Homo sapiens: one gene and its partner. The protein of the gene in region 2 interacts with the protein of the main gene of each other region in a pairwise test. Each region holds a gene or a part of one and is shown on either strand. Other genes may lie near its edges.

Region 1 (4,001 bases), on a different chromosome or scaffold from region 2:
GAGACCCCACACCGTATGGACACCTTATTTTAGTTTCTGCCAAATCTGCCGGGATGGCTTCTCATTCCCACTCGCTACCTCGGGCTGCTCCGAGAGTTTCAAACGCTGTGCCACTCGCTTCAGCTGGCAGTGGCGATTATCGGGGTTTCCTCTCCCCGCAGCCAGAGTTCCCGCGCCGCTAGTCTTTGGCAGATAACCCAACAAGCAAGTGAATGTCCCGCTCCGAATCTCAGGAAGTCTCTAAAACAATAAAAGAGACGGACGGAATCCGTTAGCAGAGCCTGCTCCCGGGGGAGGCGGCGAGGCTGCGCGCCCAGAGTAGCGCTCAGCGGTCCCGGCAGGTGCGGGGGCAGTGGAGGGGGCCCGGCGGTTCGCCCGGAGGACGGCCTCGGCTCCGCTCCGGCCAACGTTCCCCCCTCCAAGAAACTTTTCTTTCACTCTGAGAGGCTCCGTGTTGCCATGAAAACGGATTTTCCAAGGGGCCCGACCCTCCCCCTCAGGGGCATCGGACTGGAAAAACCGAAATGGCCACAGAGCAGAGACAAAAAGGGGCCGCTAAGCGGGGGCCAGGATCGAGAGAGCGGAGGCCAGTTCACCCCCTACGTCCCACACATACTTTCCACACCACCTTGTGCGAGCGCCTCCGACAGGCTCAGGAGACGGGCGACTGACTGCTTGCCCGCCCTCCTGCAAACCCCCAAGAGCCTCACAGCCGAATGCACCCCGCAGTCCTGAAGCCTGTCTCCCATGCCCGGGCCCCTGACCCACGCTGCGTCCTGGACGCACTGGCCCTCCTAGAGAAAGATCTGGACAACCAGCGGCCAATTCCAGGGAGAGCTTCTTGGAGACGCAGCCAGGAGCACTTCCAATGAGCCTGGAGTCCCTAAGCCGGCCTGGGTAGCTGGTGGTGCCCTGCGTTCCTAGCGCTGGCAGCAGAAGCGGCCAGAAAACCTCCGTGCAGACAACGGGAAGCTTTGCGGGCTGGCCGGGGGATGGGGCGCCGGTCTGCCTTGACAGGGTTGCAAAGTTGTTTTCTAAATTCCGAAGGCGCCCCTCTGCCCCCTCCCCCCAATCTGCTTGCGTGCCCCCTCCCCCCTCCCCCCGTCACCTCCTCAGGTTTCGTTCTTTCAAACTTTTTGAAACCCTAATTGGTGGCCTCTGAGTGGGCCTCGTGGACTCCCGCCTCCTAAGTAACTCTTACCACGTCACTAGGCCAAAGAGGGGCGTGGGGTGAACGAAAGGGCTCCCCGAACTTTTTTTTTTCCAGCCAGGCCGAACGGGGGCTCGGTAATGATTGGCCAGGGCGCATCACTGCGAACCTGTCAATCACGGGTCCTCCGGGTTGCGAGGGGCGGACCAAGCCCCAACCCCGGGGAATCCGAGCAGGTATATAAGGGGCCCAGCTAGAGCCCAGGCAGACTGTGAATGCGACCTGTTCGAGAGAACTCATCAGGTGCGAGAAGCCCGCGGGTTCCTGCTGATTTGGCGCGGAGCATTTTGATAAGCCTACCCTTCCCGCCGGACTCGCTGGCCCACAGGCCCCCAAGCTCCGCTCCGACGGAGTCCCAGGGCCTTTTCACCGTGGCCGCTCCAGCCCCGGGAGCGCCTTCTCCTCCCGCCACGCTGGCGCACCTTCTTCCCGCCCCGGCAATGTACAGCCTTCTGGAGACTGAACTCAAGAACCCCGTAGGGACACCCACACAAGCGGCGGGCACCGGCGGCCCCGCAGCCCCGGGAGGCGCAGGCAAGAGTAGTGCGAACGCAGCCGGCGGCGCGAACTCGGGCGGCGGCAGCAGCGGTGGTGCGAGCGGAGGTGGCGGGGGTACAGACCAGGACCGTGTGAAACGGCCCATGAACGCCTTCATGGTATGGTCCCGCGGGCAGCGGCGCAAAATGGCCCTGGAGAACCCCAAGATGCACAATTCTGAGATCAGCAAGCGCTTGGGCGCCGACTGGAAACTGCTGACCGACGCCGAGAAGCGACCATTCATCGACGAGGCCAAGCGACTTCGCGCCGTGCACATGAAGGAGTATCCGGACTACAAGTACCGACCGCGCCGCAAGACCAAGACGCTGCTCAAGAAAGATAAGTACTCCCTGCCCAGCGGCCTCCTGCCTCCCGGTGCCGCGGCCGCCGCCGCCGCTGCCGCGGCCGCAGCCGCTGCCGCCAGCAGTCCGGTGGGCGTGGGCCAGCGCCTGGACACGTACACGCACGTGAACGGCTGGGCCAACGGCGCGTACTCGCTGGTGCAGGAGCAGCTGGGCTACGCGCAGCCCCCGAGCATGAGCAGCCCGCCGCCGCCGCCCGCGCTGCCGCCGATGCACCGCTACGACATGGCCGGCCTGCAGTACAGCCCAATGATGCCGCCCGGCGCTCAGAGCTACATGAACGTCGCTGCCGCGGCCGCCGCCGCCTCGGGCTACGGGGGCATGGCGCCCTCAGCCACAGCAGCCGCGGCCGCCGCCTACGGGCAGCAGCCCGCCACCGCCGCGGCCGCAGCTGCGGCCGCAGCCGCCATGAGCCTGGGCCCCATGGGCTCGGTAGTGAAGTCTGAGCCCAGCTCGCCGCCGCCCGCCATCGCATCGCACTCTCAGCGCGCGTGCCTCGGCGACCTGCGCGACATGATCAGCATGTACCTGCCACCCGGCGGGGACGCGGCCGACGCCGCCTCTCCGCTGCCCGGCGGTCGCCTGCACGGCGTGCACCAGCACTACCAGGGCGCCGGGACTGCAGTCAACGGAACGGTGCCGCTGACCCACATCTGAGCACCGGCCTGCGCTCGTCCACCCTTGTTCCCCACCCCCACCCCCACTCCCGCCCCGCACCCCCAAGTTGGGACGCCTTGTTTAGCTTTGCTTGCCTGGGACTGTTGCCTTGTACCGATGATGGGGAGGGCTGAAAGTTTTGCTGTAGCTGTCGGGTTTTGTACAAAAGCAAAAATAAGTCAGGAGCAGCGAAAATGGGACTTCTAGAGAGCTCTCTTGCCCCACGCCGCTGCTCCTTTCACCTTTGTAGGCTGGGAATCGCTGTGTTATTTGCAAAGAAAAAACAGCCCCCACTCCTCCTCCTGAGTTCCAGGGTTATTCTGTTACATTTGAAAATGTTGTCTTGTTAGTTTGCAGTTAGCCAAGGAGTGAATGGGAGAAACATAGTATCGGGTGAGGCCAGCTGGAGAACTGCAACGCCTACGCCCCCAGTCGTGTCGCGTCTGTTTTCCTCGTGGTTTTTTGGGGCGCTGACCGCTCCAAGCAGCGCGGCAGCTAAAGCCAATGTTAATTTATAGCCAGGTGTGCGTGTGTCTCCCGCCTCGCCGCCCCTGGCCGCGGGACAGCTTCTGTCCAATCATGTTGAGTTGGTGATTTCTGCCGTGATCTGTTTGATATTTCTTCGCGCTAATGTGTTCAGATTTCGTTTGGGTAGTGGGGAGGGGCTACTTTGTTTCAGGGTTTTCAAGCTTTTACTCTTAATTCCTAAATGAGATCAATAAATTTTATAACCAACATGATGGAGTCCTGATAATTTTGCGGCCCTGAAACTTTTTTGCAGGTTGGGGAGGAACCAACACTCGGTTTTACAACTGAGATCCCATCCTAGGGGCGGGGTGGGACCTGGGGGGAGGCAAGCATAATCTGAAATGGTTTCCTTTTAACTACTGGTGATCCACCATACACCAGCTTCCAATATTCTCAACTGAAACTCGGAACAGAGTTCCGAGTCTTCCAGGAGCGTCTCCCGAGAGCGGGCACACAGTAGTAGCTAATGCGCAGAGCCCGCGGCCGCGCACTTGTTGATCGCAGTGAGCGTCTGCTGAAAGTGTCTGCTGCCGCAGCCACGCGAGGCGGGGCTGGAAAGGCGCGGCCGCTGAAACCGACCAAAAACGGGGCACTTTTACCTTTGTGCACTGGGGCGGGAAGACATTTGAGCCTAGCTGAAATATTTACAAAACGAAAACCCTTCGGAAATCTCGATGATCCTATTAAAAATAAATGGTTACAGGGAT
Region 2 (3,370 bases):
TTCCAAAGATAGAGATCAAAAGCAAAACACTGAGTTAGAGTTACAAATCTCCACTCATAGATATGGGAATAATATATTTTGTTCCATCAACATGTCTACTTTGCATTATTCAGCACAAAGCTTTGTGAAATAAGAATCATGGGAATATAAGAATATAAAGAAAAAAGGTACAAATAACAGCTTCATAAACTGAGAAATGTACATAAATAAATCATGTATATGTGGGCAGTTTGCTTAGCTGGCAAGAAACAAAATATGGAAAATCTGCTTGTTAAACAATAACTACAGAGTGTGCTTTTATGATGTTTTTCACCACAGTAATTCATATTAGAGATAGAAGCAGTTGCATGTTAAATAAAATCATTGAGCATTGTTCCCCTTGCATTGCAAAGAGCTGACTTGTGTTGTTTTTAGATGCCTCCCATTAGAAAGTAAATATTCCTTCAATGCTATGCATTTCACAAAATTTAATAAAGATGAACTGTAAATAAAGTCACAGGGAGATTTCAGACAGTTTTATTAGGAGATTGTTGAAAAGGAAAAGAAAATTAAATACAATAACAGTAAACGTGGTTCTCACATTGAAACCAGGCTCAAATAACTAGGCTACCATAGAAAAATTTCCAATTCTTGCATTATGATGTAAAAACAGATTTTTGTACAGATTTTGTACAACAAAATTCGTAATAACCTTTTATCATTTTTAGAAAACTTTAAATATATAGATAAAAATAGACAATTTTCATAGGTCCTACATGAAGATGAGTATGTTCTGTTCCAAGGGCTTGCATAGAGCGCAAATGTGGTTATAATATAGAACAACTAGACATTAATATTTTTAGGATTACAAAAGCATGGAAACCATAAAATGGGCACATTTTACTTGTTTATGCCAAAACACAAATTTCCAAACCAACCTGTATAACTAAAACAGGGAAAAAATTAAGTTACAGACTTACAATAACATTTCATGAATTGTAATATTTACAACATGTTAGTAAGAGTCTCTCTTAACATACAGCTGATAGCTTTTTTCTTTAATCCTTGCTAAAATTTCCTTTTATTTCAAATCAAACACTAAAGCATTCTCAAAGGTCTTCAAATATGTATTTTAAAACTATTTAATCCACATAACAAACAGGTGACTCTATGCCAGGAGCAGAGCAATGGCTGATTCTACTACATATGTAAGTTGTAGGCTTTTTTAAAAATCTTTCAAAAAATGTATGATGCAAAAAGCTTGACACAAGTCCATTCAATTTTAAGTGTTGTAATCCTTTAAAGACTGCATATAGGGAAACAAACACATAGAACTAGGAAAAGAATCCCTTGTGCTCAAACAACAAAAGGTGGTTATGGAAGAACTATGCTTAGAAAACCAAGTTTCTACAAATCATTTACTAGCAATACTTTAAATAAAAATAATGCTCCCTTTGTAAGCAAGCTAAAATAGGAACTGTACATATAACCTTTTTATGGTATTAAAAAGATGAACTTAGCTGGCTAATAGTGAGCTACACAAAAGAATTATGTTCCAGTATTGCAAGGAAGACCTAAAAGGTATAGAAGCGTAATGCCAGAGTATCTATAATGTTAATTTTTTCTTAATCAAGTAATTAATACCCAATCAGAACTATATTTAAACATTTTAAGCTAGTTTTCTTAGACATTGAAGATTTTGCTGTTTTGTGGTAATAAATAATGTTACGATCATACAATTTTAAGATGACAGAAAAATCATAAAATGTATAGTGACCGTACTGATTCATATCAGTCTTTAAAGGTGTAATTCCAGATATGCAAAAAACAAAGAGAAGGTAACTTTAGCATGTAATAAGCACTGTTTGCCGCTTTACTTCCAGTTATCTGCACGAAAGTGAAAACACATACTGTAACTTTCAAAAAGACAGTGAAAATAACACATAGCCACCCTTCCCTCTGACAAGGGTGGGAAGCACAGCACATTTTAACTTTATCACTCAGCGCTACATGGTATTGGACTGGTACATCAAGGTTTGTTAGGTTTTGTTTTCAGCAACATTAACATAATATGACGTTAACATATAAAAATATTTCTGGTGTTTTGATTTGCTGTTCAGCCACAATCCATTCCCAATAGTGCAGCTTGGGGCACTAGCTAGGGTTCAATATACAAATAAAAGTGGCTGACACAGAGTTCTGATGTCACCAGATGCTTAAGATCTCATTCATTAATACTGTGACTCCAGACAAATATTTACATGCCTGCATGCGTTAAAACCAGAAAGACATCTTTCTGACCAACAGGGTGACAAAACATATTTTCTAAAATTTTCATTTTCCTAAACTCTAGTATACTACTGCATACATAATACCTTCCTTGTGTGTTTTATGTTTATATACTGTACATATGACCAACAGTTTGAATAAGAAGCAACATTATTATCTTTAATTCTACATACCACTACCAGTTTGGAATGAAAACATGTTACACTTATATATTTTTTTTTATTTTTAAGAAAAAAAAACCTTCAGTGAAAGCTTTTGGCTTATATTCAATGCTTCTTTTCAGATATGCAAAATGTTATTTCATTGGGTTGTTGTCAACATCCATTTGTTGGTCTTTTGGAAAGTATGTGAAAAAAAATTCTTCAGGAGAAAACCCACAATTAGAGAGTTTGAAATTGAATGTAACAGAAAATCACTCTTGCATTTTTTTTTTTCAAGAATCCTCTATGCCCCCTACAAGTTCATTCGTTCATTCCAAGTGTTCTTGCTGGTTTCTGGAGGACATAATTCTGTAAGTCTGGGTAACCACTGCTACAAGAGTCTCTTGATGTGCTCAGATACAGAATTTTCAGAAGAGGAAAATGGTTCATTCCATTAGAAAAAAACAAAGCTAGGTCTTATTCAGACCTGCCTTTAACTCTGTATACAATTGTCCAGCAGCAAGTTGCAGTAATTAACTGTAAGAACTTTGATACTTGTACATTTACAAACATTCTCAGGTCTCTGGTATGAACCACAGGTGAAAATCAATGGAGAAAACTTTTTTTTTTTTTGTAGAATACTTAAACTTTTAAAGAACATTAATACACAAAATTCAGGAAGTTCCCTTAAAAGGACTTTATTTTTTTCTGAACTTTCCCATGACGAATGTCTGACTGCAAAGTTCTTTTCTATAACATGGATTTCTTCAACAGGAAAGATTCAGTACATGACAGTAGTTTTCAAATACAGTCTTCCATCTAGAAATGAACAGTGAAAAATTAATTAATGGCATGGTATTTGGGGTACAAATGTGCATGTAAAAATGATGTAACTTGATATAAAATTTGTAGTTTTTATTAGATCTTTACTTGGTTAAGAAGTAACATTTTTCATATCTTCT

The links. The genes of interacting proteins can lie anywhere in the genome.
Region 1: the proteins of DACH1 (region 2) and SOX3 come close enough for resonance energy transfer, tested with the Homo sapiens proteins (one large-scale study listed by BioGRID).

Annotation. Positions count from the first base shown.
Region 1 is NC_000023.11:140,502,485-140,506,485, reverse strand, and holds SOX3 (transcription factor SOX-3), read left to right. Parts: upstream 1-1,416; 5' UTR 1,417-1,425; coding exon 1,426-2,766; 3' UTR 2,767-3,501; downstream 3,502-4,001. UniProt on the Homo sapiens protein: Transcription factor required during the formation of the hypothalamo-pituitary axis. May function as a switch in neuronal development.
Region 2 is NC_000013.11:71,437,466-71,440,835, forward strand, and holds the end of DACH1 (dachshund homolog 1), read right to left. Parts: intron 3,228-3,370; coding exon 3,190-3,227; 3' UTR 501-3,189; downstream 1-500. UniProt on the Homo sapiens protein: Transcription factor that is involved in regulation of organogenesis. Seems to be a regulator of SIX1, SIX6 and probably SIX5.